2 linked regions of the Homo sapiens genome follow. The protein of the gene in region 1 interacts with the protein of each later gene in a biochemical or structural test. Each region holds a gene or a part of one and is shown on either strand. Other genes may lie near its edges.

Region 1 (7,023 bases):
ACTGTGAGCAAAGCACAACACATACAGGAAAGACTTAGAAAGAGAGGGTATATTCCTGCACATTCTTGCCTACCTAGACTGAGGACCCTTGACATCTGCAAAGTTGACTGATGGAGGCCATATTCATCCTACCATATTGATAGTATTAACGTCAAGGAGGGAAACTTGCAAAAATATTTGGTAGGGTAAAATATAAACTAAACCTTTGGGAAAAGAGTGAGATTTAGCAGAAAGACAGGGAGAGGGGAGTGAGAATTCAGGACCAAGAGAATGACTTAAGACAAGAATATTTGGCTATATCAATTTAGAATCATGTCATGTGCCGCTATATACCGTGGTTTTTGTTTGTTTTGTTGTTTTGTTTTGTTTTGAGATGGAGTCTCACTCTGTCAAGCAGTGCTGCGATCTCAGCTCACTGCAAGCTCTGCCTCTCGGGTTCACGCCATTCTCCTGCCTCAGCCTCCCGAGTAGCTGGGACTACAGGCAACTGCCACCACGCCAGGCTAATTTTTTTGTGTGTATTTTTAGTAGAGACGGGGTTTCACCAAGTTAGTCAGGATGGTCTCGATTTCCTGACCTCATGATTCGCCCGCCTCGGCCTCCCAAAGTGCTGGGATTACAGGCTGTGAGCCACCACACACGGCCTACTGTGTTTTATTTACTACTTAATGCATATTTACAAAAGAATTGCCTTTCTTTCATGTATTTTTACACTTATTTAATAGGTAATCCAAGCACATGCTAAACATTTTTCAAAAGTTACAAGAAAGCAAATAGTGAACGATCTCTCTCCTAACAAAATAACCTGAAATACTCTATGAAATTGCATTTCTTTTCAACTATTCTAAACTTTAGACTTTCTTCTAATTCTGACTGGTATTTCCATAATTTACTGATTCCTAACCAGAAAACTATAATACGATTCTCTTTGTCCCATCCACAAATGTTGCACCAAAAACATTACCACTATACAATTGGAATTCAAGGTATATACAGGAAAACAGGTTTTAAAAGAAAAAGCCTGGATTTTCCCCTTCAGGTAACGTAGTTTTACTTCCTTTTTATAAGATAGAATTTTCCTCTGTATTCTGCCAACTTCTGTTGAGTCAATTAACTTACCGAGTGACTGTCTTTTAAAAAAGACACACACACACACACACACACACACACACACACACACACACACTCTTTATAATCTAGAAGCTTGAATCAGGGAACCAAAATTGATCATGGCTACTTTATATATTACTAGAGTATCAATTTAAGTGGTATTGTTTACAGCTGTAGTCTCCAAAACGGGGTTCATGTATGCCAAAACAGTGTATAAGGCTATATGTTGGGATGTAGGAGAAAATTACAACTTGCTTAGAATTGCTTTTTACTTTCTCCTTTCAAAATTTATATTGTAGGAAGCTTTATCATACATATAAGTCAATATATTGTCACATGTATAAAATTTATCAACATATATTGGGGTGTACACTCAAATATATTTTGCTAATAAAGGTATATAATAAAATAAATTTAGAGAATTAAGCAGCTCAGTACATGAGGTGATTATTTCTAAAATAAATAAATGTAGGCTGGGTGTGGTGGCTCTTGCCTATAATCCCAGTATTTTGGGAGGCTGAGGCAGGTGGGATCACTTGAGGCCAGGAGTTCCAGACCAGCCTTGCCAACATGGAAAAACCTTGTCTCTACCAAAAATACAAAAATTAGGCAGACATGGTGGCACACACCTGTAATCCCAGCTACTCAGGAAGCTGAGGCAGGAGAATCACTTGAACCCAGAGGCAGAGGCTGCAGTGAGCCAAGATGGCACCACTGCACTCCAGCCTGGGCAACAGAGCAAGACTCTGTCAAAAACAAAATAAAATAAAATAAACAAATGTACTGAGTTTCTAAGGTACATGAAATGCTAATTTGGGTTGAATAGACAGAGAATGCAAATTGTAAAAGGGAGAGATCAATGCAGGGCTAGCCTGCAAACTTTTAGAGGGAAAAGTAGGTAGCTTATTTTTTGATATGTGCTTATTTTCAACCACGTTACTGCTAAAAGAATTACTGAAATGAAGTGTATAAACCGTGGTTGAAGAGGAAGACCCTGAAGTCAGATTACCAGGTTCAAACCTTGATTCCACCAATTACTCTGGGGAAGACTAAATCACATATGTGTAAAGCATCTGTTCAGATGACAATGTGTAAAGCACTGTTCCACATCTGATACATCAGTAGTCAAAAATGTTAATAATAACTAGTATTAAATAAAAAGGACACCATTTATTTATTTTTTTGAGACAGAGTATACCTCTGTTGCCCAAGCTGGAGTGCAGTGGCGCAATCTCGGCTCACTGCAACCTCCGTCTCCAGGGTTCAAGCGATTCTCCTGCTTCAGCCTCCCAAGCAGCTGGGATTAAGGCGCCCGCCACCACGCCCAGCTAATTTTTGTATTTTTAGTAGAGATGGGGTTTCACCATGTTGGCCAGGCTGGTGTCCTATTCCTGACCTCAGGTGATCCGCCCGCATCGGCCTCCCAGAGTGCTGGGAATTATAGACATGAGCCACCGTGCCCGGCCTAAAAGGACACCATTTAAAAGACATTAGTTTTCTATAATAATGAGAACGAAACAGCCGAATCATGTTTTAATTCAACATGACCTTTGAAAAAGATGCTCTTTGGGTGTAACTGAAATATATTAGAACAAATGGAACAAACGGCTTTTTTCCTTCTCTTTTTACCCCCCAAATTCCCCTCAACATCACTCCCATGGACTATTTTGTCTTGGAACAGCTAATGTAAATTAAACAATGTCATCCTTAGTCAAACAGATACAGGAATAACTGTATACAGTATATCTTCTTGGCTTCACTTTTATGTGGAACATGTGTTTACATTTTGACCTTTTGTCTTTTTTTTAATTAAGAAACATTTTTAAACAGCAGCAACTGGAAAGACTTTTTTTTTTAGTTTCCAAACATATTAAGCTACACATGGCAGAGCCTATTGCTGAAACATTTATAAATGTTACACCAACTGTTTATAGTTCTGATTTTCTTATTTGATTGTTTTGTTGTCATGTAAGCCATGACCTGAAAATTTTAGCTCAAATTCTTTCCATAAAATTACATAATGAAACCGTCTGAGTCATTTTGAATTTGTGAAGCACAAAATTCGCTCTCATAAAATAATGATAAGCATCATAGTGAGGTTTTTAGAGTAGGATTTTGTGACTGTCCCAACCACAACTAGATGATATAGATAAGACAGGAAGGACAAGAACAGGATCAAGAACACAGTAACAATTCATTCAATTCAGAAAAATCACTGCATTCTTGTTTCTTTTCCATTGTCTCTTCTTAAGCAAGTGATAGGAAAATATAGTCTAATATTAGATTTCACTTCATTGAAAAAGAATCAAAGAACAAAAAAACCTGGAAATTCTGAAGACAAAAGTACTTTTCTTTAGCCCATCCTTTTAAACCTTATCAATCAACTTGATGGAAGACAGAAAAAATTCATATGATGTAAGTTAATATAAATAGCGCACAAAATGTTGGCAACAGTTGTATGAACAAACTCAAATTTATAAGGCCAAAACCTACCAAATTTGGATAAGGAACTTCTCTGTCTCTCACCTGCCCCATCTATTAACAAAATTGATCATACATACTATCTATGAGGCCATCTCTGACAAAAGGATGGTGTCTTAAGTCTAGGCAGGGAGCAGTGGCTCACGCCTCTAATTCCAACACTTTCGGAAGCTGAGGCAAAAGGACTGCTTGAAGCCAGGAGTTCAAGACCAGCCTGGGCAAGAAAGGAAGACCCATCTCTACCAAAAAACAAACAAAAACAGAAAAAAATGAAGTCTAAAGAGAGTAAATGTAAGACGAATCATTTCTTTTTTCTTAAAATAAGAACTATCCTACCTTCCAAGTTTCACACATTGTTTCTAATAGGCCATCCCAGATCTCAGCACTTTCTGTGATTCTCCACACTTCTAAAGTAGACCCTGCAGTTAGTCACTTCAGTCTTCTTCACTGAATCTCTCACCTTAAAATATTCCATCATTCCCCAACCTCCACTGTAGGACTTTATTACTACTACTACTGACAAACGATTTTCTTAATGGGTCAAAAATAAACCCCAAATTGATGGATTCATAGGTCCCCTGTTTGTATTTGCACAACTGAAAAAGAAACACAATTGTTTTTCAACATAGCTGTTAACAAAATCTTGACGGCTGGAAATTTACTGGAATCCATGGAATGAGATTTGCAACAATAAAATAACCATTCAATATTCACTCCTGTTCTACCCAGACACAGCACATCAATTTATGTGCATCCACAAAAAAAAAAAAAAAAAAAAAAAAAAAAAGCTGGTAACTGTCTTATCTAAAATAATAGCTAAATGGTTTGGTTTTTGATAGAAAAATTAAAGTACTAATGCTTCAATTTCTGTTTAGGTGTTTCCATTGTATGTCTTCAAAGTGTAAGTTACTCAAGCAAGCCTTCACAACTGGTTTTACTTCTCTCTTGCTCTCTCCCTCCCCCTTTCCCTTCTGACTTCATTATCTTTCTCCCTCTACCACCCTTCTTCCAAAGCCCAAAGTAATAGATGGTAAGAGAAGGGGTTTTTTGGTTTCCCAATTTCAACCCCTAAAGCAATCCACCTACTATTACTAGTAAAATGAATAATGTTCTTAACTTCTGCTTTGAAAATCACAATCACTATCTCTAACTCAAAATAATTTTTATTATCTTTTCTGACACTATTGTTTTATGCTCATAACTAAAATAATGGCTTCAATATTTTAGCCATTGTCATGAATGATTTAATCCATTTCAGGAGGATTTAAAACCACCATGTAAATCTCTAATAGCCAAAAACTATAAAGTCTCATTAATTACAAAATCCTGGAGCTCTTAGCTACAAATTATGAGCTGAAAAGATATGGATTTTATTACTGTATAACATTAAATCCTAAGTAAAACTGCCACATAAGCTCATTCCCTGCTTCACCTCGCCAAGAAGTGCAATACTGGATTCATTTCCATAAAACACAATGAAATTGCTATTCTGCAAAAAAAAAAGTATATAACTCTGTAAGATTTTATATCAATGATATAAACTTTACAATATTTTGCTTGACCTTAAGGATGTTTTGTAAATTCTCCAAATTCCCTTTGAACTGTAAAAACCAAAAGGTAGGTAAGATTCCAACAAGACTGGACATGGGACAGAGTTAAGAGGATTAAGCCACAGTTATTACATGGTAAATTTCTATTTATTACTTTTGATATGCTTGTCTTATGGGGTATGAGTCTATATTTTTGGTATGTGTATCTACTTTGAACTCTAGATCTTTTTCTTCTATAACTCAGAAAATCAGCTCTTTATTTTCTATCACGGTAGTTATTTTTTCTCCCAGGTTGACTGCTCTGCATGTGCCCATGTGTAGTTAATTTTGTTTCTGACCACTTGTCCATTTATCAGAGTAATCTGAATGGTATTTACTTCATTTTTTGTTTCAGCAATTCCACTGAAGAAATTATGGGGCAACACAAGATCTCTTGATGATGCCTATATAAAATCATGAATTACCACAGATTTTACTCCAAACTAGTACTGATGCAATGCTATAGCCTACCGTAAACCTTCTAAGAAATTCAAGGCCTAGGGATGCTACCCTTTCAGACATGACATGTCAAACTGTATTTGCTTTCTCTAGGACGGGGAAGAGGGAGACAGAGTAGATGCCAAGAGGTTTCCATTATGGCTTCTTTCTGGCCTTTGAGAGTTTCCCTAGAAAGGGTCACCATAAGCCACTATCATTCTAACATCTAAAGCTTGCTCTTTCGACCAGAATTGATAGCAAATGGAAAGTAACAATTAGAATTTATAAGACTGGAAGAGAATAGGAGAGGGAAAAGAAAGCTATTAGAAGAGGAAGGGATCCTTTGGAAAGGTAGGAAAGAAGATGACCTTCACCCATCTGACTGTTTGCTCTAGCGCCACCTACAGCCACACCACCTGACCCTCAAAAATCACCGACCCCTGGCCAGACAACATTTTTTCCAGCTAACTGCAGGTGCCTGGCTTATTTGATTAAACCACCACATTATAAGGTCAAGGTCACATGCTTGATCCCTACGTTTGTCCTACGTTTGTCAATGGGCACAAGTTGCATGGTCAAAAACTTGCCTTTTAACTCCAACCTCTCATAAATACCATCACTTACGTTAAAGACATTCACAAGAGAGGATATGAACCAACAATGCAAATCCATCAGCATTACTAAAAGAAAAAAAAACAGGAAAACCTGACTTGTGAGTCAGCCCACAGAACAAATTCCATTTAAGAACTCCCTGATCATCCTGGGCTTCAAGGTTAGATACATAAGAGTAAGAAATCAGGCTTCCCTACTTACTCGTTTTATGTGTGACCTTGGACAAGTTAATTTTTCAGAGCTTTAACAATAAAACACATTAAGGGTCCCAAATAGAGCTTGACATATAAGGGATACTCAGGTTATGCTAGCCCCAGCCCCATCTGGAGATAGAATCGGGCAGTCAAGAGCACAGGGATGAAGCCAGGTCCACCTGTATCCCAATCTTGATTTTGCAGCTCACGTGAAACACTGGGCAAGTGATGGCCTTATCGTTCTCATAAAGCTGAGACAAAAAAATTAAAGCATTTAGACAGCACACAGCAATTGTCAACTAACGGCAATTATGTTTTAAATGTTAAGAAGAATATAGTATTATCACTATCTGTTAATGTTTTCCAAAGTACAGTCATGGAACTATTGATATCAGAATGACCTGGGTGGGATGTCTACTGAGGGGGAAGAAAAGGATATCATGTCCCATCTCAACCTATTTAAAAAAGCTCTCCAAAAATGGTACAGGGTAATGGTCATTTCTGAATCAAACTTCCTTGAGATATCTATGAAAATTTCAGAATTACTGACCCAGCAGGTCTTGTGCTGTGTCATAGTAAATTAAGACTTGTTTTCCAAT
Region 2 (7,862 bases), on another chromosome or scaffold:
AATCCCAGCTACTCAGGATGCTGAGGCAGGAGAATCACTTGAATCTGGGAGGTGGAGGTTGCAGTGAGCCAAGATTGTGCCACTGCACTCCAGCCTGGGCAACAGAGCAAGACTCCATCTCAAAACAAAAACAAAAAACAAACAAACAAAAGTATACTCTAAATTTCTCCCAAAGTTAGCTTGGCTCATGTCCCAGAATGAGCAAAGACAGCCAACCTGTGAGGCTAGAGTCAAGATGGACTCAGCCATGTCAGATTTTTCTCACTGTCATAATTTTCTCAGTTATAATCTTTTGCAAAGGTGGTTTTACTGGCCTAAGAGATATGGATGAATTCAGGGTGAACAGGACATTTGAGGTCTCTGGTCTCACAGAGCTTACATTCTAGTGGGAGGAGATATAATAAATAAGCAAATCAGTAACATTTCAGTGCTATAAAAAAAATCAAGGTAATAGTGTCTTCGGATGTGTTTATGGAGGCTGCTGGCTGTTGACTACCTTAGATAGTTTATCTGATAGAATGAGGAAAAGAAGTCTTTCTTCTTCTTCTTTTCTTTCTTTTTTTTTTGAGACAGAGTCTTGCTCTTGTTGCCCAGGCTAGAGTGCAGTGGTGCCATCTCAGCTCACTGCAACCTCCGCCTCCCAGGTTCAAGCAATTCTCCTGCCTCAGCCTCCTGAGTAGCTGGGATTACAGGCGCCTACCACCACGCCTGGCTAATTTTTTTGTATTTTTAGTAGAGACGGGGTTTCACCATGTTGGTCAGGCTGGTCTTGAACTCCTGGCCTCAGGTGATCTGCCTGCCTCAGCCTCCCAAAGTGCTGGGATTACAGGCGTAAGTCACCATGGCTGGCTGAGGAAAAGTCTTTCTGATGAGATTGCCAGAGGCGTTTAAACCTGGGCAACTCCATTTTGAGTAGGGGCTAGGTAAAATAAGGCTGAGACCTACTGGGCTACATTTCCAGATGGTTAGGCATTCTAAGTCACAGTATGAGACAGGAGGTCAGCACAAGATACAGGTCATAAAGACCTTGCTGATAAAACAGATTGCAGCAAAGAAGCTGGCTAAAACCCACCAAAACCAAGATGGCCATGAGAGTGACCTCTGGTTTTGCTCACTGTTACACTCCCACAGTAGCATGACAGTTTACAAATGCCATGGCATGTCAGGAAGTTACCCTGTATGGTCTAAAAGGGAAGGCATGGATAATCCACACCTTGTTTAGCATATCATCAAGAAATAATCAGAGCCCTCGGGGGTGCTCTGTCTGTGGAATAGCCATTGTTTTATTCCTTTACATTCTTAATAAACTTGTTTTCACTTTATGGACTCGCCCTGAATTCTGTCTTGCGTGAGATCCAAGAACATTCTCTTGGGGTCTGGATGCAGACCCCTTTCCGGTATAGAGAGAACATTTTAGGTGATGTCATATGTTGAGGAGCTAGCTGTGAGAAGATAAGGAGGTGGGAGTGAGGAACATTGAGAAGAAGAAACGAAAAGTGGGCGGCTCTGAGAACGTAGCTGTACCCCAGACAGAAAAGTACTATACCATTATTATATTGTACTTTGCTTCTGTGTCAGCTTTCTCTATCATCCAGTGAGCTGTACAAATTATCTCAAAATCTTTAACACCTATTATATAGTAGACATTCAGTAAATTTATTTAACAAAGGGATGGATTTAGTAATCATTTCATTAAGATTTCATGTACCAGATACCTCAGAGATACAAAAATGACCAGGTGAAGGGCTGTGCCCTCAGTGAACTCAAAGTTGTGGGAAGCAGAGTTGTGAACAATTACTGATTACTAATACAAGGTGGTCAATGCTATTGGTGCTACTACAGCATTGGAAGGATGATATCTCACTGTATTTGAAAGATATGAGGAAACTGCATAGAAGTGGCAAAGTTAGAGGTGAGTGTTGAAATGTACCTAAATTAGTTGAGGGGTGTTAAAGAAAAAATTATTCAATGATCTTATTAAGGCATGGACAGGCAGAGTGCGTTCAAGACCATTGCAATAGATATAGGAATTACTGCAACAGGGTCTTGTAGTTGGGGGAGGGATTGGGTTCAACTCCGAATATAGCATAAGCAAGTAGAAATTTATAGCAAAGAGCAGGCTGAGGGTCAGTGGATGAAAAATTACTAAGAGGAAATATCAGAGGTAAAGAGAATTCTGGTTAAACTCATCTCAAAGGATTCTTGCTGAAGACAGCCAGGGTAATCAGACTTCACCTGGGGGTGAAAAGCGAAAGCGAAGGATGAGGACCCCAGTCAGATATCTAGGATGGGGGATTCTTACCAAACTGACATAGCACGGTTCTTTGCTAAAACTGGATTTTACAAGAAAGTACACAGACAGACCTAGGACATGGCTGGTTTTCAAAAACCCCAAGAAGTTTAGGAGTAGAGACAATAAGTTAAAACCAGGAGTATATGCAGAAAGAGTAGTAGGCCAGGAAGCGTATTCAGGAAGTGTCTGTGGATCACATTGAGGGACTAAGTGGCTAAGTTGGCTGGACTTCCTGGTTCAATAGGGACTTCCCTAAGGGGACTTTCCCCTAAGCCAAAATGAGTCATAGCTGCAAGCTAAGGGATTGAAACTTCAACCAATCAAAGGGGACTTTCCCCTAAGCCAAAGTGAGTCCCAGCTGCAAATTAAGGGATTGAAACTTCAGCCAATCATATAGAGAGTTTAAGCTCTAGCTGCAGCCTGATGTTTTTAACCAATCAGGCCCACCAACCTAAGAGAGGAGACCACCCCTCATATTGTGTTATGCCCAATTTCTGCCTCCAAAGAAAGAAGAATTTAAAACAAAAAGGCAGAAATGAAATCCACAGGCAGACAGCCCAGCACTGTGCTCTGGGCCTGGTAGTTACAGATTGACCCCTGACCTAACCGATATGTTATCTATAGATTCCAGACATTGTATGGAAAAGCATTGTGAAAATCCCTGTCCTATTCTGTTCTGTTCCGATTACCAGTGCATGCAGCTCCCAGTCACATACCCACTACTTGCTCAATCGATCACGACCCACTCACGCAGACCCTCTTAGAGTTGTATGCCCTTAAAAGGGACAGGAATTGCTCACTCCGGGAGCTCGGTTTTCGAAGATGTGAGTCCGCCAATGCTCCCAGCTGAATAAAGCCCTTTCCTTCCATAACTCGGTGTCTGAGCGGTTCTTGTCTGTGGCTCGTCCGGCTACAAACCCACAAGTGGATAGAAAATAACCTAATCCTATGGGACAGAAAAAGGAAAAGGGGAGGAGTCATAAGGGGATATAAACATAAGATACCCAAACCAGAAATGGCAACCCTTCCAGGTTCCCTTCCACCACGTGGAAGCTTTACTTTCGCTTTCCCTTTACTTTTGCTTTGGCTTTAATAAATCTTGCCACCGCACAGTCTTTGGGTCCACGCATTTCTCTAGTGAAGCTGTAACACTTGCCACTGTGGTCCACGGCTTCATTCCTTGAAGCCTGTGAGACCATGAACCCTTCGATCGAGAAAAACCTTTGATCGGAAGAAGACTTCTCGTCTCAACATTAAAGGACAAAGAAGCCAACTCTAAGGCATGCCATTAGCTTTAATAATCTGAGTGTAATAAATAATAATGATCATAACGGATTAAAACATCAGATCTGTAAAAAATGCATGCATTCATAATGATATCAAACAAACAAAAACTTTGTGGTTAACTCTGGAGTTTGGTAGGGCACCAACTCATGTCTCTGAAATTTCATAATTAAAAAGAACAAATCCAGCATTTACCCAGTCTTTCCTCTATGAGATTATCCTGGTTATCTCAGGATAACCAATGAGTTGGTATGAAAAGATTCCTTTTATAGAAGAACCTCTGGTAATAATAGAGAATTATTGAAAGGATTAGAAATTCACTGCTCTAGGATAAAAGACTTAAGAGACATACCAAAATGCAACATGAGGACTTTTTTTGGATCTTGACTGGAACAAACCAACTATAAAAGATAATTTGGACTCAAACAGGAAAATTGGAATTATTTATAGTACTAAGGAATTATTGTTAATTTTGTTAGATATGATAACGGTAGTTAAATTTTTAAAATCTATGTCAGTTTGAGATGCAGACTAATTTAAGGGTAAAATAATATTATGTCTAGGATTTCTTTAAAAAAGAGGGGAAGGAAACTGAAACTTGATTGGCAAAATGTTGCTAAATGTTGATTCTGAGGGATGGGTTACTTGAGGGTTTGTTATTAAAAGTAGAATCACTTTTGCTTATGTTTAAAATTTTCCATTATAAATAGTTTTCAAAAGCAGAGCCAGTGCCTACCCCACATCATCTTCTGTTATTTAATGCCCAGGACTCAGAAAGGGTCAGCAGTCTCAGATCAACAGTTACTGATGTCCTAACCCATCCTAAACACTGATGCTAATGAGTGTGGGGCAAAGTTCACAGCGTGCTAAGGAGCAACATTTAGGAACCTGACTGGATTCCGCAGCTCTCGGGACAAGCCCCCTGGAAAAGGGCTGGGGGGAGGGGCGGGGAGGCACCCAATTATTCTAGAAGGTTCTGAGATCTCCCAGGGATTTCCGAGAGGCTACGAGGTGTAACTGGCAAATCAATGACTTAAGAGTAGCTTTCTCCCAGCCTCCCCGCTGGCTCTGGAGTATAGAGGGAAGCCAGCCTTTTCCTCCCCCATCCTGCCCCTCCCCTCTCTTCTCATCTTCCCCTCCACTCTCCTCCTGACCCTGGCCTGGCCACTCCTGCTTTCACTTCTCTCCACTCCTCTTCGGCCCCGCCCCGCGGCCTCCTCCCTCCTCCTTGCCCCGCCCCCTATCCCTGCGCGCCGGCGGCCGTTACCATAGCGACGTGCACGCAGTAGCCAGGCCTGACCCGCTGGTCCCTTGCTGGCGGGAGGAAAGAGGCGGCACCATGAGCCACGCAGTAACCATCGAGGAGCCCCAGGCCCAGCCGCAGGTGTCTCAAACTCGGTACCGGGAGAGGTCGCGGGCTGGGAGCCACATCTCCTCCAATCGAGCGTATGATTTTCTGTACGGTAAGGACCGCCGCAGACCTTCCTCCGCGTCCGTCGCCTCCTAGGCCAGGTGGGCTCCCAGATGGTGGGACCTGGCCAGGGGCATGGCGAACGAAACACGACCCTCTGGACTGACCTCTTGCCCACGGTTGTCCTTGGTCGGGTGGGGGCAGCTCCGAGCCCTCCAGGTGGCCGCACTCAGGTTGGGGTCGGGGGTTCGGGTACATCGAAAGGCGCGGGTGCGCTCCGCTTCGGGGGGCGATTTTCCTGAAACCTGTTCCGGGCGTTTTGGTACCCAGAAAGTGTGCAACGATTTGTACACTCGGAGATTCACTCAACGTTCCTGCATAAAATGCCCTACAAAAATGATCTTTTCTCTCCAACTCTCTGGGCAAATCCAAGTTGGGCGAAAAGAAGTGCCAGTTTATCCCATGCTTGTTTTTAGGTTTTTTGTTGTTGTTGTTGTTTGTTTTTTTTAACTTCTGCGTCAAAGCATTGCTTATAGACTGGGTCCGCTGGCTCCTCTTGGGCCAATAAAACCCCAGTTTATTTTAACGGCTTGGTTGTCCATTTTATGTTTTCTCTCTCTCCACGCTCCTTGAGTTCCTTAAGTTCCTGTTCTACACATTTTTGTAGCCTTCTGAGCACCTATTCTAGTGCTGATACATATACTAGGCGCTTCAATAAATAAATGTTTATTGAATTTGCCGTGGCAAGAACTGTAACCAGCTATAAGCATGATTTTTTCCAATTTTGCCCTCTGCAATCCCAGGTTTTTCACCTGAACCTTGCATTGCTTTCAGCAATGTGGTGTTGCCTCTGGGAATCCCAGTCTCCTTTGTGTGGGAATCTAGGGTACACATTCCTAGATAGAGGCTGTGTAATGATTGCTGACATATTCTGGCCAGTGTTTTTCTGTATTTACTCTTGGTTTTGTGAAATAAATCAAGTTAGCTCCTGTAAACACATCACCATGTTTTTTTTTCACGGGTAATTTGAGAAGGAGGACAAACATCTCCCCAAAGTATTTATTAAGCTGGTTGTTTCTTTGATGCCGAAGTGTCTCTTTTGCAGAGGAATTGCTAAATGTTTCCATGTCCCTTGCTAAGAACAGAAATTCACTCAGAGTAGATCAAATAAAAGTTTGGATTGTTATAAAACAATCTCGCCGCTAGTCATGGACAGGAAGCGAAGTATAGCCAGGGCGGATGAGAACCTGGATGGGGAAAATCAGAACTAAGATGCTGTGCTCTCCTGCTTTCTTTCTTTGACCTTATGACCTTTCACCTTGTTAGGGTTGCCACATTTAGCAAATAAAAATACAAGAGGCACCGTTAAGCTTGAATTTCAGATAATGAATAATATTTTAGTATAAATTTTTGTCCTGTGCAATATTTTGGAACACATTTATACTAAAAAATTATTCATTGTGTATCTGAATTTAAATTTAACTGGGCATCCTGTATTTTATCTGGCAACTCTAGCCTTCTTTCTATGTATAATCAAGCCCCAAGTAATGATATTTCGGTCAACAGTGGACTACATGTATAAGGATGGTCCCATAAGATTATAATGAAGTTGAAAAACTCCAATTACTTCGTGACATTGTAGCTGTCATAACATTGTAGCCCAATGCATCACTTTTTCTGTGTTTAGATATACAAATACCATTGTGTTACAACTGTCTACAGTATTCAGTACAATAACATGCTGTATGGGTTTGTAGCCTAGGAGCAATAGGCTATACTATATAGCCTAGGTGTGGAGTAGGCTATACCAGCTAGGTTTATGTTAAGTACCCTCTGATATTTACACAACGATAAGCTCACCTCATAACCCGTTTCTAAGAACGTATCCCCATCATTAAGCAACACATCTCTATGCTTGCTTCCTTCCATCTGACAGAAAGCCTCTTGTGTATGGATTTCTCTTACTATGATAGGGACTAGGGTGGCGTGCTTCTTGACTAATTAGCCCTAAAGCTCACCACCAATTGTATAGCGTCTTTGTGTATTGTAGCTGAAAATTTAAGTTAGAAATTTAAGATTGGTTGTTGGCTGGCCAATGAATTGACTGGCCTTGGGCCAGGTTTCCACCTTGACAGAACTGTGGTGGTGCAAAGATGAACACCTTTCCAGGTTCTTTTACCCTTCCTTATGAAGCCCTATGTGATTAGTTCCCTAGTTACTTCTCTGGCCTCTTATCTACTCTCTTTCCCCTCCTTCATTCTGCCTCATTTGTCCTGGTTTCTTTGCTATTCTTCAGACGTATCAGGCATGTTCCCATCCTAGGGACTTTGCTGTTCTTCAGATGTATCAGGCATGCTCCCATCCTAGAATGTTCTTCAGATATCTAACTAGCTAACTCCCTCACCTTCAAGTCTCCTTACATGCCACCTTCTCAAGGGCCTGCCCCGACCACCCTAGTTAAAATTGCAACCCAATCTTCCTTACCCGATTTCTTCTTTTTTAAAAATAACAACCCTCAAATTCTAATGTGTAATTTGCTAGTTTATTATGTTTGTTGTTTGTTGTCTCTCTCTCATGAAGTCAAAGATTTTTGTCGTTTTGTTGATGTATTCTAAGCACCTAGATAGAGTAGCCAGTCAATAAACATGTGTTGAATGAAGGAGCAAAAAGAGCCTGAGCCTCTTGCAGCTTTTCAGCCTTGGTGGGAATATCCAATGTCTGCATTCAGTAAATCGTATTTGTTGGGTTACTAATGAATTATTAGGTTTTAGGAATTGACACACATTATCCAAATTCAAAAGAGACTTGTTTCTAAATCACAATTCCCAAATTATTAATTTCTATGGAGAAATATGTGTTACCATGTTATCTAGA

Evidence for each region.
Region 2: the proteins of PRKAR2B (region 1) and CFAP91 form a complex in vitro, tested with the Homo sapiens proteins (one study listed by BioGRID).

What each region holds. Positions count from the first base shown.
Region 1 is NC_000007.14:107,047,689-107,054,711, reverse strand, and holds part of PRKAR2B (cAMP-dependent protein kinase type II-beta regulatory subunit), read right to left. Parts: intron 1-7,023. UniProt on the Homo sapiens protein: Regulatory subunit of the cAMP-dependent protein kinases involved in cAMP signaling in cells. Type II regulatory chains mediate membrane association by binding to anchoring proteins, including the MAP2 kinase.
Region 2 is NC_000003.12:119,698,183-119,706,044, forward strand, and holds the start of CFAP91 (cilia- and flagella-associated protein 91), read left to right. Parts: upstream 1-4,839; 5' UTR 4,840-4,916; coding exon 4,917-5,040; coding exon of another isoform or gene 5,041-5,089; intron 5,090-7,862. UniProt on the Homo sapiens protein: Involved in sperm flagellum axonemal organization and function. May regulate cilium motility through its role in the assembly of the axonemal radial spokes.